Linked DNA regions of Homo sapiens: regions 1, 3 and 4 are each linked to region 2. The links come from fine-mapping of genetic effects on gene expression. A gene starts in region 2. Each other region holds a variant in brackets. All regions are shown on one strand. Distances are from middle to middle. Region 1 holds the start of HNRNPU (heterogeneous nuclear ribonucleoprotein U). Region 2 holds the start of COX20 (cytochrome c oxidase assembly factor COX20). Region 3 overlaps HNRNPU (heterogeneous nuclear ribonucleoprotein U). Region 4 has its middle 28 kb from the start of COX20.

The links.
Region 1: its variant is fine-mapped to the expression of COX20 in monocytes (TOPMed, PIP above 0.99). The same link has a PIP of 0.9 or more in T cells.
Region 3: its variant is fine-mapped to the expression of COX20 in whole blood (INTERVAL, PIP 0.93).
Region 4: its variant is fine-mapped to the expression of COX20 in B cells (Fairfax 2012, PIP 0.95).

What each region holds. Positions count from the first base shown.
Region 1 is chr1:244,862,471-244,867,616 of GRCh38, forward strand. HNRNPU (heterogeneous nuclear ribonucleoprotein U) reads right to left here and starts at 2,073. Exons shown (of 14, transcript NM_031844.3): 1 at 1,147-2,073; 2 at 149-260; 3 at 1-64. The coding sequence starts at 1,837. LOC124904588 (UPF0764 protein C16orf89-like) reads right to left here. Exons shown (of 4, transcript XM_047439568.1): 3 at 2,193-2,261; 4 at 2,012-2,116. The coding sequence ends at 2,012. RefSeq lists silencers at 463-1,142, 2,123-2,222 and enhancers at 1,447-2,278, 2,279-3,109, 2,443-2,502. The variant T/G (reference allele first, on the strand shown) is at 2,245.
Region 2 is chr1:244,832,515-244,837,661 of GRCh38, forward strand. COX20 (cytochrome c oxidase assembly factor COX20) reads left to right here and starts at 3,144. Exons shown (of 4, transcript NM_198076.6): 1 at 3,144-3,242. The coding sequence starts at 3,201. RefSeq lists enhancers at 1,055-1,814, 2,318-2,377, 2,918-3,037 and silencers at 2,538-2,877, 3,118-3,167, 3,208-3,497.
Region 3 is chr1:244,854,936-244,860,082 of GRCh38, forward strand. It overlaps HNRNPU (heterogeneous nuclear ribonucleoprotein U), which reads right to left. Exons shown (of 14, transcript NM_031844.3): 5 at 4,340-4,439; 6 at 3,794-3,906; 7 at 3,076-3,339; 8 at 2,663-2,782; 9 at 1,793-1,921; 10 at 1,522-1,690; 11 at 969-1,223; 12 at 489-673; 13 at 38-109. Among named protein-coding and RNA genes, the nearest start is that of SNORA100, 3.3 kb to the left of the region's middle. The variant G/A (reference allele first, on the strand shown) is at 2,130.
Region 4 is chr1:244,804,637-244,809,783 of GRCh38, forward strand. No RefSeq gene overlaps it. Among named protein-coding and RNA genes, the nearest start is that of COX20, 28 kb to the right of the region's middle. RefSeq lists an enhancer at 4,484-4,984. The variant G/A (reference allele first, on the strand shown) is at 2,928.

The sequences.
Region 1 (5,146 bases), 30 kb after region 2:
ACAAACCACTGTGTCATCGAAGTGTTCATCTTCTTCTTCAACAGGTGGCTGAGGAGATTTGGCTCTGAAAGACAGAATTGTCTCCTGATACAGCTTTCCGATCAACGAACGAATAAGGGATGAGTAAAACTAGGTGAGCATCCTATACCTGCTATACTTGTTCTCTTCAATGTACTCAAAATATCCACGGCCATGATCTTCTCGTGGTCTTTTAACACCCCTCTTTTTATCTCCGCCTTTCTGTTCTGTTTTGCCGTCCCCTAAAACACACACGAGCCCCATAAAGGCCAAGCCTCTAAACAACAAAAAAACGCTTTTCCGTTCCGAGAACCAAAGCAGCTCGACTTTATCCTGCTTTTTAACTGAGGTTTTAACCGAGGACTCAAATGTGAATTCAAAGAACAATCAACTACGAATTCGATTGGCGCTAGTGACGCAGTCTAAAGACATTACTAATTTTGCCAGTCTCCTCGATGATTCGAGAAAGCCAAAGAAAAACTGCGCGGCCCAGGCCCGAAGCCCACGTGTATCCCGAAGAGAGCGCAGAGAGGGGGAGGGGCCGAGCCCGGCGCGGCGGCGCTCCCCTCCCCCGCGGGCCCGCGCTCCCCGCGGCCGCATTGTACTGATCTTCCGCCCCCCGCCCCGCCCCGCCCGGCTCCTCCCGCCGGAAGTGACGTCACGCCGAGCCCCTGCGCTCCTTGCACAATACAGCGGCGAGGAGCCGCCAAAGCGCGCCCGCCCCGGGACCTGGGGCCTCTCCCCTCCCCCCGAGACATGTGCCCGCACCGCGCGCACGCAGCGCGACGGCGCCACCGCGGGCCGACCGGGCTCCCTCCCGCCGCCCGCCCGCGGCTCCTCCCCCTACAGCGGCAGCTGCAGCTCCCCCCGGCTCTCGAGCCACATAATGGAGGCGCTGCCACCGCCGACACACACACACACACACACACACACGCGCGCGCGCACACACACGCCCCGAGCCCGAGGCCTCTCGGCTAATCTGGGATTCCCCGCGCCCCCTCCCCCACCCTCACCGCGGCGCCCTCCCGCCCGGGGCTCCCTCCCCCTGCGGGGCTCCGGCAGGCCTGGGGCACGGTCCCCACCCCGCGCGGGCCTCCCGCCGCGCGCAACGTACAACGCAGCACTCACCCGCCGCCGGAGCCCCGGGGCGACCGCCGCCTCCGCCGCCTTCCGCCTTCTTCTTACCTCCCGCCTGCTGCTGGCCCTGCCTCGCCCCGGGCGGCGCCACCGTCACCGCGAACAGCGAGGTGGGGCCGCTGCTCTTCCCCGCGGCCTCCTTGGCGGCCCCGCGCTGCTGTTGGGGCTGTTGCTGCTGCGTCGCCGGCGGTTGAGGCTGCTGCTCCCCGTGCCCGTTCTCGTCGCCCGCGCCTTCCTCTTCGTCCCCGAGCTCATCTTCCCCTTCCTGGAAACCCTGATCGTCGCCGTTCTCGTCTTCCGAGGCGGCCTCCTCCTCCTCCATCGGGCCCGAGTCGGCCGCCCCCGCGGCCCCGTTCTCCTCTCCTAGCTCCATCTGGTCGCCGTCCAGAGCGGAGATTCCTTCCTCCTCCTCTTCCTCTTCCTCCTCCTCTTCATCGCCGCCGGCCGCGGCCTCCTGCTCGAGGCCTGCTCCCGAGCGCCCAGCGGAATCCCCGCCCAGGTCTAGGCTGCCGTTCCCGGGCTCCATGGCGGGGCGGCCCCCGGCCTCCTCGTCGTCCAGCGCAGCCTGGAGTCGCTCCATGAGCTCGGCCTTGAGACCCTTGTCAGAAAGGCGTCGCTTCTTGAGCTCCTCTTTCAGCTCCGACACCTTCAGCTTTTTTACATTAACAGGCGAGGAACTCATGGTGAGGGCCCCGATTCACCGCTAGGCGCTGCCTCAAACTCGGCTCCGCTCACTCGGCCACTGGTGGCGGCTGCTGCGGCTGCTCCTCGGCCCGGGCGGCGGCTGCGGCTGCGGCTGGAGATGGGTTCGTGCTGCAGAGCGGATCCGCCTGGTGTCGAACGGCGCCAATTCCTTTCACCGAGTTCGCGAGGGAGACGCGGAGACTCGCCTGGCGCGAGCGAGCACGCAACGTCCTCTCGCAGGAGCGGCGCCGCGCACGTAATATAGGCGCCCCGCCCCCTGCGCTGACGGGAGCACTGCGCAGGAGGAAAGCCGGAGCGCGCCCGCGCTCGGCCCCGCCCATTACCGTACTTACCTCCCCGCCCCCACGCCGAACCCGGGCCGAGAGCGCGGTGGAGGCCGCGCAG[T/G]GCGCTTCCAATTGGGACTGAGCAAATGGAGGAAAAGGAAACCGCCTTTCAGTTCAACCGACTCACTGCATGATATATTGGCCTTTCTGGGTCTTTGGTGGCTATACTCGTTTGGCTTTTCTCCTTCCCAGCTTGGAGGCTGCTTTATCCAAATGCTTTCTTCAGTCCTCAACTTGGCGTTTCAACCCGAATCCGCCTTTTCTTCCATCTTAGATCTGCCTTCTTATGTGTTTCTCCAGCTCTTCGTTTAAAACTCCTTCAAATCGTATTTCAGTTTTGACTGGTATAGCATACATTGGCAACTGTTACACGCAGCGGCTCTTTTCCTCATAATACCGTATTTGGTTTAATTTGTGTAAGTCCTGCCTTGCGAATTGGATTTTAAGTTCGAGAAGGGCAAGGGCAGAACCGTTCTTTTGTCTGTTCCACACCCCGGGTGCGGGGCCTGGGAAGTAGAGGCTTTGCTTACTACTCCATACTGCAAACCTTAGTGTACCTGCCTTTGCAGGGCAGCTATTCTCATGCTCTTAATAACCCTGAATAAACCTCAGAATTGCATTTCCAAGTTTTCTGTAGCTACCACAAAGACGGACCTCCAGTAACACTTGTTCTGTCCACTTTAGGACCTGGTCATCAGCTACGAAGTCCCAGTAGCTAACCGTGAGGGTGAGACCCAACTAGGTCTTTGATTATAGGCCCACTTGATTCTCTTCCTATTCCTGTAGAAATACTCTTGACCAAATTATTCTGAAACTTAAAGTTTACGAAAAATCAAGGGCTGTGATTTTGTAAAAAGAAAAATGGACTATCGCTCTTGAAATCCGTTATTTTATATGTTAGAAGTTTACTTTTTCTCTTTAAAGAAAAGATGTGATGTCTCGAAGTTTTAGATAGGGAAGTCAGAATTTAGATTCGTGATAGAAGTTAACATTTTAAACCCTAGATAATCTGCAGTGTCCAGCCAGTGTTCCATCTGACTAAGGAGATGGTTTATACCCACTGTTTGGTGCTCTAGGTGGCACAATAATATTGCCCCATTATTAATTTGAAATTTGGAAGTAAACACATTGAAATTTCTCCCATAGGCTAATATGATTTAACTAATTGATACATTTTATTTTTGAAGTTTATTTTCGGTAGCTTTTATGAAGCATTCTACCATACCTTGCAGTCATGTATACGTGAAATATTAACACTTGTGAAATGATTTGACTTGAAATTAATGGACTATGTACAGTACTACTGATAATCCCCAGTTCAAGTTAAGTGGTGAGGATAGCCCCCAAAATAGAAACTTCCAAACAGTGCCAGAAACTCATTTTAGCCTTTGGTTATAATTTTGAAGGTTATGAATAAGCCACAAACTGGAATTTGAAATTTTGTCTTCGTTCAGAAATGGGAAGAGAGCTACAGGGGGTTTACATGTTCACAAACTAGATAACTAATCCCTTAATGAATCAGAGTTAAATACAATTATGATGGTTCCTTAAATTTATGTGTCCTAGATATTATTTACACCTTTAAATATTAGTTATATGAAAACAAATTTCATTTACTGGAAAACACTAAACTATGAAAACAAAGATTGTATATCTACATATAGTAGATCTGTAACAGTCACTCTTGGAACATTAAGTCAGTTGCAAAAATAAACATGAAATACAACTTTTGATGCTCACAAGAAAGTTCTATGGCTTTATCTCCAAAAGTTTTGGAGAACTTTAGAGCTGGATGGGGCCTGGAGATCGATCTGCAGTCCTGTTCATTTTACTGCCCAGGAAGCTGGGACCCTCACCCCCCACACCAATGGGCTTTCTATTACATTGTGCTGTCTTAGACAACATTTGAAAGAAAAACAATTTCTGCTCAAAGAACCATCATCATACTATCCTTTTCACAAACAGAGGAAATATGCCATTCCATAGTCTTATGTTACCACTTCAAAGTACAAATGGTGACATCTTATTGATCATTTTTGCTTCTTATATTTTTAATGCTATCATGATAGTCCTGCTCTACAGAGACCTGTTAAAGTGCAGGTCACTTCCTGTAAATCTCTGAAGGACCTCTAAGACAATTTAAATTCCCCCTGTGTCAAATCCTAGAGGCTACCAAGAATACCGCGTGCCGGAGGAGACAAGTTAATTCTCAATAACAAAAAATGATTCAAGAATGACCTATGAATAATTGATCTGTGAGAGGTAACTACAAAGTTTTGGTGCTCTGCATGTCTAGCTTACATTTTTGAGGTTTAAGCAAAGGAAATGCTATACTTTGTCACACAATTTATTCAGCAAATATTTTTTCAATACTTTCTCAAAAACATTTTATAGTCATAACGATGAGGCAGTTCCAGAGATCTACAGTTAACAAAGTATCCTGCACTTAAAAATTTGCTGGCCAGGCCCAGCGGCTCATGTCTGTAATCCCAGCACTTCGAGAGGCCGAGATGGGAAGATGGCTTGAGGCCAGGAGTTCGAAACCAGCCTGAGGAACACAGTGAGACTCCATCTCCACAAAAAATTAAAATTAGGTGGCTGTGGTGGTACGCCTGTAGTCCGAGCTACTCAAGGGGCTGAGGTAGCAGGATCACTTGACCCCCGGCAGTCAAGGCTGCAGTGAGCCGTGATTGTACCACTGCACTCTAACCTGGACCACAGAGGGAGACCCTGTCTCAAAAAAAAAAAAAAAGAAAAAAGAAAGAAAAAGAAAAAAACCCGTTAAGATCTTACGTTAAATATTCTCATTCCCCCCCGCCCCCCAAAAAAAACAAAACAAAACAAAAAACAAGATCGGGAGTGGTGGCTCACACCTGTAATCCCAGCACTTTGGGAGGCTGAGGTGGGCAGATCACCTGAGGTCAGGAGTTCGAGACCAGCCTGGCCAACATGTTGAAACCCCA
Region 2 (5,147 bases):
ATGGCAAAAAGTAAATTACTGAATGCAAATGATGTGGTACAGTGTCATTTCAGCGTGTATCACATACAGATACATGTATACATAAGCGTGGAGGCAAGTGTGACATAGAGCCTTTCATTATTTACCCCATATATTCCAGTGTTGTTTTAATTAAGACAAAATATAGGTATTCGTGGGATAATTTTTTTTTGTTTTTGAGACGAAGTTTCGCTCTTGCTGCCCAGGCTGGAGTGCAATGGCACGATCTCGGCTCACCACAACCTCCACCTCTTGGGTTCAAGCGATTCTCCTGCCTCAGCCTCCCAAGATGGGATTACAGGTGTGTGCCACCATGCCCAGCTAATTTTTGTATTTTTAGTAGAGACAGGGTTTTGCCATGCTGGCCAGGCTGGTCTTGAACTCCTGACCTCAGCTGATCCACCCACCTCGGCCTCCCAAAGTGCTAGGATTACCGGCATGAGCCACCGTGCCCGGCCTCGTGTAATAATATTTAATTAAGAAAAAGCCGGGTGCCATAGCTCATGTCTGTAATCCCAGCACTTTGGGAGGGTGAGACAGGAGGATCACTTTAGTCCAGGAGTTTGAGACCAGCCTGGGCAACAAAGTGACACACCATCCCCCACCTCCCGTCTCTACAAATAATTGTTTTTAAGAAGGATAAAGAAGAGTTTGAAAAGAGAGACATCAAACTGTTAGTTATATTTACCTTAAAAAGGAGAGAAAGAACTGAGATTTTTACTTTCCTTTCTATAACTGTTAAACAATTAAAAATGGAAATATTATATGCAATTTTGTGAAAATAAAAATTTTAAAATAGGCCAGGCGCAGTGGCTCACGCCTGTAATCCCAGCACTCTGGAAACCAGAGGCAGGCGTATCACCTGAGGTCAGGAGTTTGAGGCCAGCCTGGCCAACATAGTGAAACCCTTTCTCTACTAAAAATACAAAAATTAGCCGGGTGTGGTGGCAGGCGCCTGTAATCCCAGCTGCTACTCAGGAAGCTGAGGCAGGAGAATCACTTGAACCCGGGAGGCAGAGGTTGCAGTGAGCTGAGATTGCGCCACTGCACTCCAGCCTGAGCGACAAAGTGAGACTCTGTCTCAAAAAAAATAAAAAATAAAAAATAAATCATCCTTATGAAAATACTTTTCAAAGACAAATGAAATAGACCCCAACAATGTCTACTCTAGCAAATTTTCAAAGTCATAATAAAAATAAAATAGGATGACTCGGTGGTGTTTTAGCTGGTACTTTTCCAGTTTTCCTTTTACAACATAATCAACAATGACTTCAAAAGGATTTCCCCCTCCTTCATGGAATATTACTACCTTCAACACGGCCTTTCAGATCCGGAGTTCAAAGCATAGTTAGCATTATAATTTCAGCAGAGAATCCAGAATTGGCAGGATATCACCAGTAGGGTGACTTTTTTTCTTTTCCCTAGCAAACAGTAGAGCAGTATGTAGTTTCTCCCCCCGCCCAGACGGAGTTTCGCTCTTTCTCCCAGGCTGGAGTACAGTGGCACGATCTCGGCTCCCTGCAACCTCCGCCTTCCGTTTTCAAGCTATTCTCCTTCCTCAGGCTGCCGAGTAGCTGGGATTACAGGCGCCCCCCACCACGCCAGGCTAATTTTTGTATTTTTAGTAGAGGCGAGGTTTCACCAAGTTGACCAGGCTGGTCCCGAACTCCTGACCTCGTGATCCGCCCGCCTCAGCCCCCAAAGTGTTGGGATTACAGGCGTGAGCCTCCGCGCCCGGCACAGTATGTAGTTTCTAACTACAATTTCAAAAACAAAAACAAAAAAACCCCCCCCGCCCCCGCAAAAAAAAACCTCAAAAAAAAAAATGTGACACATAAATACACAACCTTAACTGTGTATTTTACTGGGATTGTAGAAAGGTATCAAATGGGCATGCAAGTAAGGTCCTTACGGAGTAAGAAAACGCCCAATGAACAGTACTTAATATGAATTCGACATCGTTAACACTGAGCGCTTGCTGTGTGCCAGCGCGCAGCATAATTCGAAGCAGCATGACTTTGCACAATGACATATTCTACAAGTCCAGTTTCCTAAGGAGTGCCCTTAGGTTACATATAACCTAAACGTGAAATGTAGAAGTACATAAAGGAGGCATAAAGTTAAAGGGGAAAAATTATAAATACTAGAAAAAATTGCATTGTATTATTTTGATGGCTGAAAAATGGGCTCGACCCTGCATGCACGCGTTCTCCATTGAGCTCGACAATATGCAGTATTTTGTTTCACGTTATGTCGCAGTCTTAGGGAGGAGTGAAACGTGGAACACGACTTCACATCAAAAATGCACGTTGCAGAGGCATTTTTCCTTCGGGGACGCCGGAAGACTTCGCCACACGCGCGCCCTCTCCGCGGACACCAACGTGCTGACGCATGTTCATTAGCGAGCTGCTCCCTCCATTTTGTCCCCAGTCTCCTTTAGGCGAACTGCGCGGTTCTATGTTAAAGCCACTTAGTAATGAAACTATAAAAGGGAGGAAGTGGGGTGGGCGTGGGAGCCCCGTTTGCGCAAGGCAGGCGCGGGGGACTAAATGGCTGCTGGTGCAGAGTGGGGCTGCCCCGGCACCAAGGGCTCGTCCCGTGGCCGGAAGGACAAAGGACACTTAGGGGACGAGGGCCGCCGAGCCAGCGCGGAGCGCCTTCCGGGTCGGTGGGCTGGGGCGGGCTGGGGGCTGGGGCCGGGCCGACCCCCGCGGTGGGGCCCACCCCGCAGGACAAAGCAGCGGCCCCGCCCCTCGGCGCGCGCCCGAGGCTCGTGCGTGTGAGCACGCGCGCCGGAGACGGTTAGAAATGGCGGTTGGGGCGGAGCAGGGGGCTGGCGCGGGAAGCGGGGCTGTCTGGCTCGGTTACGCCCCCACCTCGCCAGGAATCTAGGAGTCGGTTTGTTTTCCGAACCCATCTCCTTCCGCTCTCCCGCCCCTGCAGGCTGTGTGCCGAGCTTGGAAGAAAGTGTGACCCGTTCGACGGAACAAAGGACATGACAGCCCGGCCCCGTGCGGCCACTGCGGAGCGTTAGGAACATTCCCTAAAATGGCGGCCGGCGCGTCGGAACAGGGCGGGAGGCGGCGGCGCGTGGGGGCGGGACGGGGAGGGGCGCGGCCAGCCGGGCTTCTGCTTCCGCGACCCCGGCGGTGCAGGGCGGGTGGAGTCGCGGAGTAGTCCTCATGGCCGCCCCGCCGGAGCCCGGTGAGCCCGAGGAGAGGAAGGTAACCTGGGGGTCGGCGGGGCGCGCGCCGCGGGTGGGCGGTGGGTAAGGACGTTCTCCGCGGAGCTCCTAGGCCCGGAGCACGTGTCACTGGCTTCTCTGCCACCCATGGGCTTGAAACTATTTTAACTGTTCCTAGTCCTTATCCCAAGCCTCCAACATTTTAATCTAAGTGGCCGGGACAAAATTGACCAAAACTAGGGGGAGGAGGGGACCAGTAGTACTAATGACTTACTACAGGTCATTATGAAATAAGCTAACAATACTGAATCTTTGGCGAGAAAATTTTGCTGCTAAGGGCACTGCACTGTAATTTGTTAGTAAAGGCTAATAGTAGAGATTAAAGCTCCGTTGAGGACAGGTGCCTTGTCTTTAACACGTTGTATTCATCACATTTAACATAGGAGTAATTGCTGAGGGATGACTTGATTGTACTACGATGAGATGAAGGGTTAAGATTTCTTCCCCATCACCAGTAGCCTCCCTAGCTGGTGTCCCTGTCTCCATACTCTCCTGAATCCACCTTCCACTATTGTCCGCTGGCCCTTTCCAGCCTGTAAACTGGACAGTTTTCATTCCTCTGCCTAACATCCAGTCGTAGCAGCCCATCCTATCTCTTTAAGGATAAAACCCAAATTCTTGGTATAGTAAAGCTAAACCAAGCGCTCTCCCTGGAAGGGCTCCTGTGTTTCACCAAAGCTGACTTACGTACTTTCCCCATCTTCCCAGGCATCTTGTACGTCGTTACATTTATCATATTGGAAGGTAATAAATGATCTTGTTTTCCTCTTTTCCTGGGCTCCTTATTAAGAGCAGGGAACCTAATTTATATCCTCAGGGCAGAACAGGTATTCAGAAAAGAATAATGCAAGAGGAAAAAAGTTTAATATAAACTAGGGAGATCGTAACATTGGCTAATCACGAGCAAATATTTATAGAAGACCCACTGTGTGCTAAATGGCTCCTAATATATACTTAAGATATTCTCCCAGCTTGGAAATTCTGCTCACTTCTTGCTCTTGCTTGCTTCTCTGGTGGGCTTCCATCCAAATTTGGCCATGACATCAGATCATATGGTTAATATTAACAAATATTGTATAAATTGTTTTCATACTTAATATCCAACAGGTTGTCAGTTTACGTACTACTGGTGCCTTATCTGTTTTTACTGTCCCATACACTGCCCATCTGGAATAAGCTTAGTGTTTAAAAAAAAAAAAAGATCTTTGCATACACACAGTAAATCCTAGATTCAGTTTTGTGATAAACACTGGAATCCTGAATGGGACTTTTGGTAGGAGATAACTGCTGTTTTTAAAGGTCATAAAGGTGGTTTAATCCATTGGAAATTAAAAAAAAAAAACTTAAAAGAGGATCAACATTGACCTATTTAACTGGCCCATCAGTAAGTAGCAAAACAATACTGTAGTTGTTGAAATGAAGATAGTTATAAGCCTCAAACCGAGCACAGTCAGAGGTGGGAGGCCAAAAAAACAAAAATTGCTCATGAAACAGTAGTACCTATCAGAGCCCATCAAAAAGCTAATTAAATTAATAGAAGCTATGATGAATTAACAGCCCAAGGTGCTGTCAGAAAGGAAGCCTGCGGTTATTTTTTTTAAAAGAATTTGTCAGTGATCATTCCAGCACAACCCAGGGAGGATTATTTTATTATAAGAATTAGCAAACCTAAAGTAAAAATGGGAGTTACCAAGCTGGCATACCTTGATAGAACTAGCCCCTAAAAACTGTCCTCTGCCACATTCTTGTCCTTTAAGAAACTTTAAAATGTGAAATTTGGTACATACAGGTAAATTCACATTCAGGTAAATTCTTAATTCACCCATTCAAAAAATATTTAGAGTACCTACTGAGTATTAGACACTGAACGAGGTACTAGACTGAT
Region 3 (5,147 bases), 22 kb after region 2:
CAATTAATGTACATAAAGCACATAAGAAATTACTTACACCCTGCTGCCACTGGTTGTAGCCCTGAGATTGATTTTTGTAGCCACGATTGTTTCCTCGTCCTCTGAAGTTCTACAAAAAGGAAATACTCTCTAAGAGCTCTGAGCCCAATTGCTTGTTAGGTTTGTGGGGGTGAGAGAGAGGAGCAGAAATGGACAGGTTGCTAGCCCCTAATCTTAGGTAGCAAGCAATACACAAATTCTGGATACCCTCTGCTGGTTTCTTATGTTTTAATTTTTTATTCATTATGAGAAATGCATCTGACTTGTTTAGTACACCTGAAAAAACTCAAAAGTAAGTAGACTCATTTCACCATTACTAGTTCAATTTTCCTTATGTCAATGCCTATCATGTTCCTTACGGATTACTAAGACACCCCAACATAAAGCTCACACCTTTCCAGACTAAGCTACAGTTATCAATCATGCTTCCAGGGATCTTGAATCATTACCTGGTTGTAGTTCCCTCTGTTGGGCATTCCACCTCTGTTGTAGTTCCCTCTGTTTGAGTAACTACCACGGCCAGGAAAAACAGGGGCACGAGGGTATGGATAGCCGATTCCACCACTTCCTCCACCGCCACCACCTCTCTGTGGCATGTTGCCCCTCCTATTATATCCGCCACGATTCCCAGGGGCTAAAAGACAAGAGCTGTTTTAGTTTCATTGTATATTGTACCCTACTTATACAGAAGACTTAGGATTCCTCTAGATTGTTCCTTTTTCTCCAAAAATAATTGTTTAAAGACAAAAGAAATGTTTAATTCTAACCATTAACATAACCTAGGTGTATTTAATATCAAATCACATGAATACTTTAGTTACTGTGACAGTATACCATTAATGAGGAAGAAACTTCAGCTACATCCAAACTATAAAATTATCACTTGTTTCGATCCTGAACTAAATACAGAACACTCAAAATTAACTTGCCTCCTCCTCTGAAATTTCCACCACGCATATTGAATCCTCCACGTCCTCTATGGCCACCACCTCTGTTAAACTGGTTCTTGCCACTCTTATTTTTATTGCTTTTCTTTGAGCCAGTGTTCTGTTTCTTTTCTGGTGGAAGAGCCTTTTTGCTTTCTTCCTTATATTGCTCCAAGAGTTTTTGGGCTTCTTCCTTCTGAAGTTCAACATAGGTTATTTCATCAAAGCACTCAGCTACCTCTGGGAGGGTAAAGTTTCCTGCAGGAAACAAAGTCATATTATTAATTTAGAAACCCACCACGAATCCTCACAATCCTAAAGCTGACAATTCTTGAGGTTTAGTAACATATTTTCCTAAAAATAAAAACAGACCAAACATATATGCATATGTAACAACTGCAATTTTAATTCCTGAAGCAGTATTGCTGGAAAAAATGTTAACTTTCAGGAGGCCTAAGTCCTAATAGATTTAACATAGTTACACAAGCAGAATATGTAGGAAAAACATTCTTTTAAAAAGAAGATTTCACACAGTAACAGAATTAAAATTCCATGCCTTTCATTTTGAGGACCGCATGTTCTGGTAGGTCTTTCCCCTCTACTTCTGCTTTCTTCTGTGTTCTTTGCTTATAGTCTTCATCTTTTGGGCAAACTACAACAGCTTTTCGCTGGAAGCCTGCAAACAGGCACATTTTTCTCCTCTGGGCAGCAGCAGACACATTTGTCTTTAAAAAAAGAAATTTATGTTTACAACCCTAAACATTAATTCTACACCAATCTATCTAAATTATCAGTTAATATTTTTCAATTTCAAAGCTACAGCGTACCTGATCCAGAATAAAATTTCGCTTCTTTCGGGCAGCAATCTCAATAAATTTCCCAAGACACTGGGGGGCTCTCTGCAACAGTGTGTTCAGTTTTCCAGTATCTGCCATTTGCTTCTTAAAACCTGCCACCTATATTCAAAAGTTAAAATTTCCCCTTGAACTTGTGAATTTTAATAAGTTATGCTTTTTAAAATTCAACTCATATCTATATGTAAAGCAGGCAACATTTTATAATTTAAATATTACCTTTGTCCATTATTGCTACAAAAACAGGGTCACTTAAACTATGTAACAAGACCTTACACTTACTCAATTCTTTTTAGCTGCTAGATGTTAA[G/A]AGCTCAAAAACACTACGGAAAAAAACAGAAGCCTAGCCAGTGGAAGGCAGTTTACCCTCAGAGTTGAAAGAACCAACTTAATCTTGCCTTTCCTCCCATCTCTTTAAGATACTAACAAAATGGATAGAGACAAAGACAAAAAGTTTACCTAGAATACCTCCCGGTCTATAATTTTTCTTTTCTTTTTTTTTTTTTTCTGAGACGGAGTGTTGCTCTGTCGCCCAGACTGGAGTACAATGGCACGATCTCAACTCACTGCAACCTCTGCCTCCCAGGTTCAAGTAATTGTCCCTGCCTCAACCTCCCGAGCAGCTGGGATTACAGGAACCCACTACCACACCCAGCTAATTTTTAAATTTTTAGTAGGAACGGGGCTTCGCCATGTTGGCCAGGTGGGTCTCAAACTCCTGACCTCAGGTGATCCATCCACCTCAGCCTCTCAAAATGCTGAGATTACAGGCGTGAACCACCATGCCCAGCCTCTCCCAGTCTATTTTAAACACTGAGATCAGGCCCTAAACATTTTACTTACCATCATCTTATCCATAATAGTATTTGTGCCAAGAATGTTATATTTCCCTGGATTTTCTGCTGCATGTTTAGTAACCCAGGTAGTTTTTCCAGCTCCTGGCAAGCCAATCATCATCACAACCTAGTGAAAAGAAAAGAAATGTCATTTCACTGTCAGTAGACACCACCTAATAATTCTTTAAATATTGTTAAGGCCAATTTAAATATCTAAGTTTTCATAGCCCTTACACTAACGGACAAAAATTTGTTTATGGAAAGATTAACAGTCAACATAAGGGGGAAACAATTACTTAAGAGCAATATGCACAGCACAAAGTAAATGAAACAGACTAATCATCTAGTTCTTCTAAATGTCATTTTGTGCCAGGCAAGCAATATTCAAATGCCACAGTTAAAAAAAAAAAAATCCCTTACTTCACAATCTTTCTTCTCTTCAGGCCCCTTTGGTCCTCTAACTCGATCCTCTAAGGGGACGTTCTGGATGAAAGTATACTCTTCAGGTATTGGAAAATATGGCTTTTCCTTCTGACCAAAATTAAATTCAACTGCACAGTTGTGGCAGAGAACATGCGGGAACAGTGGCCGTCCAGCAAGAACTTCCTTACTGATTTTGAAGGCAACGCCAAGATCTTGTCCATTCTTAGCATACGAGAGTTCTACTTCATCACTTTCAAAGTTCTGTTACACAGAAAAAAATTCAACAGTTAAAATCTGCTTCCTTAAACTTTCTAAAAAACTAAGAATTAAAATTAGGAGCAAAGCTTATCCTGTGGAAGCTACAGGTTAAAGAACTATTAGGTGGCCTTTAAGGGCTACACAGTTAAGAAATCTGATGGTTGTAAACCATGAAGCACGTATCTCCAGAACCAGAAACAATACTGACCTAGAAGCTAGACTGAATTTTCTAGGTCAATTTCATGTTCACTGTTTTCAGTCAAAATGAATTAGTGAGTTCCTCAAAAATGTCCTGTGTTTTCCCAATTCAACTGCTGAATGAAGTCTTTACACTAATCCAGGGACTGGTGTATTTTGTTGCTCATATTGAAAACTGACCTCAGTAAAGCTTCTTTAAAGTTCCTAGATATAGCTACTAACTTTGCCATTTATACATAGAAAGTTAGCTTTAACTTACAGCAAAACATGTAATCACATCATTTTCATCAAACTTTTCTCCATAATCTTCAGTCTCACAGTTGCATGTTTTTATTCCTTTTAGAGAATACCCATAAGAAAATTCTTCTTCACCTAAGAAAATAATTAATCTTCATGAAGTAGATGTTTAAAATAGTCCAAAGACTCATCTATTTTACTACTTAAGATGTAGGCTACAAGAGAAATAAGCATATAACCTAATCACCTGTCACTGACACTATTACTTTTCTATCTCTGTACCAGAATTGATGGAAGTTAGGAGGGATATATACGCAGAGACCAAATTAGTTGACGATTTGCATATCACGGGTAAGATTTTATTTCAACCATTGGTCATAAACTTCTAATAAAGGAACAAAAACTAAAATGTAGCCTGTGCCTACTATGTGCTAATATTACCTGTCTGAAGTATTAACAGAATAGATAAAAACAGACAAAAGGCTTAGAATGCCCTCTAGTTAAAAAACACTGAAATCAGACCCTCCTGAACATTCATGAGCCCACATCAGTCAAAAAGAAGCTTTACCAAGTAACATTCCACTTGTAGTTAGTGACCAGCCAATACGAACTTCATGTATGTCAATATCTTTTGTATATAAATGCCTTACTGGGATCTTCTCTGTAACCTGAAAGTCAAATCATTAAATAATTAAAATAATACACCAAGGAGGTAACCCCTTAACTCTCGCATATTTCATTGCGCCACGGGCTAATCTTCCTCTAGCTATAAATACAAAGAAGGCACACTCTAGCCCACCCCCAATATTTGTAAGAACTTTAAACTGATGTGCTTATAACTTGAAATTTAAAGAGTTAAATACTTATTTGACCCATATTTAAAAGAATACTTAATATTTTTAAAGTTCATGTTGTCAGTCTTTAACTTAAAGCCAATTAAAGGATACAATTAATGTTTTTCTCACCAACAAAAGCAGTAATGTAACCAAATTTTATTTTTAACTCTTTGGTGGCCCTTTCAAATGCTTGATAAAAATGAAGTACCCTAAATAAAAAATCGCCTAGCTCTGCATGGCAAGTTCTAACATAACAACCGTGATTAACTGTCACAACAAAATGAAGGTTCCAAGCTCCTCTTTTAATTTACAGGAAGCTTCAAAAATAAGTACCTTTGATAACTTAGCAGTATGAAGCACCTGTAATTCCAGCATTCTGAGAGGCTCAGGCGGGCAGATCACTTGAGCTTAGGAGTTCAAGACCAGCCTGGGCAACATGGTGAGACCTTGTCACTATTTTAAAAAGGAAAAAAAAAGGCTGGGCACAGTGGCTCATGCCTGTAATCCCAGCACTTTGGGACGCCGAGACAGTGGATCACC
Region 4 (5,147 bases), 28 kb before region 2:
GCCAACACAGCGAAACCCCATCTCTACCAAAAATACAAAAATTAGCCGGGCATAGTTGGTGCTCGCCTGTAATCCCAGTGACTCGGGAGGCTGAGGCAGGAGAACTGCTTGAACCCAGGAGGTGGAGGTTGCAGTGAGACAAGATCGTGCCGCTGCACTCCAGCCTGGGCAACAGGGCGAGACTCCATCTCCAAACAAAACAAAACAAAATTATGAAGAGACTACGCTTAGATTAGGGACTGGGATTTAACACAGGTTCAATCTTCCTAGAGTACATCTTTAATAAAGTATACACAGGGAACAGTGCCCAAATCATAAGTGTACAGCTAGATGACCTTTTACAAAGTGAGCACGCATCTGCGATCAACACCCACAGAAAGAACATTCCCGGCGCCCAGCACTGTGGCCCTCCCGTTCACTGACCCCGCCTTCCAACTTCTGGGGCATAGATTTTTGTTTTTGAATTTCGGACTTGTTTTTGTTTTTGTTTTTTCAGGTTTTCTTTGTTTTGTTTTGTTTTGTTTTCCTGAGACAGAGTCTCATTCTGTCACCCAGGCTGGAGTGCAATGGTGTAATCTTGGCTCACTGCAACCTCTGCCTCCCAGATTCAAGCGATTCTCCTGCCTCCTGGGCAGAGGTAGAAAAAAAGTTTCAAAAATCATGAATTCATATTAATATTCAAATTAGGACATTTACAATCTAGGCACTAAGGATAGGCATTGCTAGTAGGTGTCATTGCTTTTTTTTTTTTTCTTAAGATGAAGTCTCACTCTGTCGCCCAGGCTGGAGTGCAATGGCGCAATCTCGGCTCACTGCAACCTCCTGGCCTCCCAGGATCAAGCGATTCTCCTGCCTCAGCCTCCCAAGTAGCTGGGATGACAGGCGCCCGCCACCATGCCCGGCTAATTTTTGTGTTTTTAGTAGAGTTGGGGTTTCACCATGTTAGCCAGGCTGGTCTCCAACTCCTAACCTCAAGGGATCCGCCTGCCACAACCTCCCAAAGTGCTGGGATTACAGGCGTAAGCCACCTCGCCCGGCCTGTTTTTTAACTTTGGATAAATGGTAACCTACAGTGTACACATTTTTCTGTCTCCTTTCTTTTCATTCAACCTTCTATTTCTGAGATTCACCCAAGTTGTCCCATTAAGTTCTAGACTTAAATATTATATGTGTTGTAGGGTTATTATGGACAAATAACACAGCAGAATGGAAAAGAACATGAAAGTGAGACCCCTGCAACCCATTAATGTGTGTTTCATTTAATGACGGTAACTCTACCGAAAAAGAACAAGAAGCGATGACACCTGGCCGGGCGCGGTGGCTCACACCTGTAATCTCAGCACTTTGGGAGGTTAAGGCGAGCAGATCACTTGAGGTCAGGAGTTCAAGACCAGCCTGGCCAACATGGTGAAACTCCATCTCTACCAAAAAATACGAAAATTAGCCGGGAGTGGTGGAGGGCAGCTGTAATCCCAGCTACTCGGGAGGCAGAGGCAAGAGAATCTCTTGAACCCGGGAGGCCAGGAGTTTGCAGTGAGCTGAGATTGCGCCACAGCACTCCAGCCTGGGTGACAGAGTGAGACTCCATCTCGAGAAAAAAAAAAAAGCAATGACACCTACTAGCAATGACTATTCTTAGTGCCTAGATTGTAAATATCCTAATTTGAATATAAATATGAATTCATGATTTTTGAAACTTTTTTCTACCTCTGCCCACTGAAAGAGCCTAGACGAAATGGCTCTCAGTAGCAGTGAGCTCTCCTGGGGCCTGGTTCTTGGGTTCCAAATACTATATCCACTAGGAGAGGCCGGGTGTGGTGGCTCACGCCTGTAATCCCAGCACTGCAGGAGGCTGAGGTGGGCAGATCACGAAGTCAGGAGTTTGAGACCAACCTGGCCAACATGGTGAAACCCCGTCTCTACTAAAGATACAAAAAATTGGCGAGGCATGGTGGTGCAGGCCTGTAATCCCAGCTACTTGGGAGACTGAGGCAGGAGAATCACTTGAATGCGGGAGGCGGAGGTTGCAGTGAGCCGAGATCACACTCCAGCCTGGGTGACCGGGTGAGACTCCATCTCAAAAAAAAAAAAAAAAGGAAAAAAGAAAAGAAAATGTACAAGATGTTCCAGGGATAGCCTTTGTGTCAGAAAGTAAGAGAGCTTGGGTCCATAAGGAGCCACTGGGGGGAAACAACAAGTTTTTAAAATTTAAATAAATAGAAAAAAAAAGGAAGGAAGGAAACTATTAAAGACCTCTTGAATCTTATCAAAGAAGGAAGGAAACTATTAAAGACCTCTTGAGTCTTATCAAAGATACAGGAACTAATTGGATGAAGTAAAAAATGGAATAATTTCAGCATCAAAAAGAATAATCACTATAATGGATGGAAAACAACAAAATTATAAAATTTATATAAAATATACATAAAAATTTATATTAAATTTATATACAATGTAATGATATATCATTATATCAAGTCCTCTCCACCCCCATGAAAAATCCCTCATTGTTGTCTTTGGAGGTTGCTGAGGGACCAACACATTATGCTGAAAATTGGCAAATGAAAGGAGTGAGTCAAGCATTTATCCTGTGTCTTCCTATATACTCTGCATCTTTCTTTGTTTTCTTTTCTTTTCTTTCTAAGTTCTTTTCTTTCTTTCTTCTTTCTTTTTCTTTCTTTCTTCTTTTTCTTTCTCTCCCTTGCTTGCTCCCCTTCCTTCCTTCCTCCCTTCCTTCCTTCTTTCTCTCTTTTTCTTTCTTTCCTCTTTTTAGAGAGATGGGGTCTTATTATGTTGCCCAGGCTGGTCTCAAGCTCCTGGCTTCAAGTGATTCTCCCACCTCAGCCTCCAAAACACTGGGATTACAGGCATGAGCCACATGCCCAGGAGTCTGTGTTTCAAAGTAACCAAAGAGTTAATGAAGGAAA[G/A]GTCTTTATTTTTATTTACTTATTTTTTTTGAGACGGAGTCTCACTTTGTTGCCCAGGCTGGAGTGCAATGGCGCGATCTTGGCTCACTGGAACCTCTGCCTCCCGGGTTCACGCGATTCTCCTGCCTCAGCTTCCCGAGTAGCTGGGATTACAGGCATGCACCGCCATGCCCAGCTAATTTTGTATTTTTAGTACAGACGAGATTTCTCCATGTTGGTCAGGCTGATCTTGAACTCCTGACCTCAGGTGATCTACCCGCCTCAGCCTCCCAAAGTGCTGGGGTTACAGGCATGAGCCACCATGCCCAGCCAGGAAAGTTCTTTTTAAATGAAAATCCAGTTAGTAAATCCAGAAGTAATGGTAGCAACTAATGAAATAATGTATTTAGGCAACAATCATCAACAGCTACTAAAACATCAGGCAAAAGGTTATAGAGAAACTGTAATGGGGGATCAGACTGACACCACCTCAACCCACTGACCAGTTTTTGAGAGTGAGGAACAGGAAGTAGATGGCACCTCTATGACATGTGCTCACCAACAAAATTAGATCTGAATGGAATCAAGCTTCTAGCGCTGCCTACCAGTTTATGGGAAATATGGACAATAGAGGAAAAACACAATGACACAACAGAAATCAGTCAGCTGAATCCGACGTAGGGAAATTCTACAGGCATGACCTGGTTTCTTCAAAAATAAATGACATGGGGCAAGGCATGGTGGCTCACGCCTGTAATCTCAGCACTTTGGGAGGCGAGGTGGGCGAATCACCTGAGGTCAGGAGTTCGAGACCAGTCTAGCCAACATGGTGAAACCCCATCTCTACTAAAAATACAAAAATTAGCCAGGCGTGATGGGCACCTGTAATTCCAGCTACTCAGGAGGCTGAGGCAGGAGAATCACTTGAACCCGGGAGATGGAGGTTGCAGTGAGCCGAGATTGTGCCACTGCTCTCCAGCCTGGACAACAGAGCAAGACTCTGTCTCAAAAATAAATAAATAAATAAATGACATTGGGGAATGGCAGGTAAGAGGAGTGATTAAAATAGGCTTAAAAGGCTGGGTGCAGTGGCTCGCACCTGTAATCCCAGCACTTTGGGAGGCTGAGGTGGGTGGATCACCTGAGGTCAGGAGTTGGAGACCAGCCTGGCCAACATGGTAAAACCCCATCTCTACTAAAAATACAAAAATCAGCCGGGTATGGTAGCACATGCCTATAATCCCAGCTACTCAGGAGGCTGAGGAAGGAGAATCACTTGAACCCAGGAGGCAGAGGTTGCAGTGAGCCGAGATCGTGCCACTGCACTCCAACCTGGGCAACAGAGACTTCATCTCAAATTAAAATAAAATAAAATAGGCTTAAAAGAGGCTGCAACCAAAGCCACTTTGTGGCACTTATCTGGGTCCTAATTTGAATGAAGCAATTATAAAAAGACATTTTAGAGATGTACAGGGAAATGTGAACATATTGGTAATTTTATTAGATATAATAATAACATCGAAGTTATTTCTCTCTCTCTCTCTTTTTTTTTTTGAGACAGAGCCTTGCTCTTGTTGCCCAGGCTGGAGTGCAATGGCATGATCTCTGCTCACTGCAACCTCTGCCTGCTGGGTTCAAGCGATTCTCCTGCCTCAGCCTCCTGAGTAGCTGGGATTACAGGTGCACACCACCACGCCCGGCTAATTTTTTTTTTTTTTTTTTTTTTTGAGACGGAGTCTCGGTCTGTCGCCCCAGCTGGAGTGCAGTGGCGCGATCTCGGCTCACTGCAAGCTCCTCCTCCCAGGTTCACACCATTCTCCTGCCTCAGCCTCCCGAGTAGCTAGGACTACAGGCGCCAGCTACCACGCCTGTCTAATTTTCTGTATTTTTAGTAAAGACGGGGTTTCACCTTGTTAGCCAGGATGGTCTCGATCTCCTGACCTCATGATCCGGCTGCCTCGGCCTCCCAAAGTGCTGGGATTACAGACGTGAGCCACCGCACCCGGCCTCATTTTTGTATTTTTAGTAGAGACGGGGTTTCACCATGTTGGTCAGGCTGGTCTCGAACTCCTGACCTCATCCACCCGCCTTGGCCTCCCAAAGTGCTGGGATTACAGGCGTCAGCCACCACGCCTGGCCTCTCTCTCTCTTTTTAAATTATTTTTTTGTAGAGACAGGATCTCATCTCTCTATGTTGGCCAGGCTGGTCTCAAACTCGTGGCCTCAGGCAACCCTCCCTTC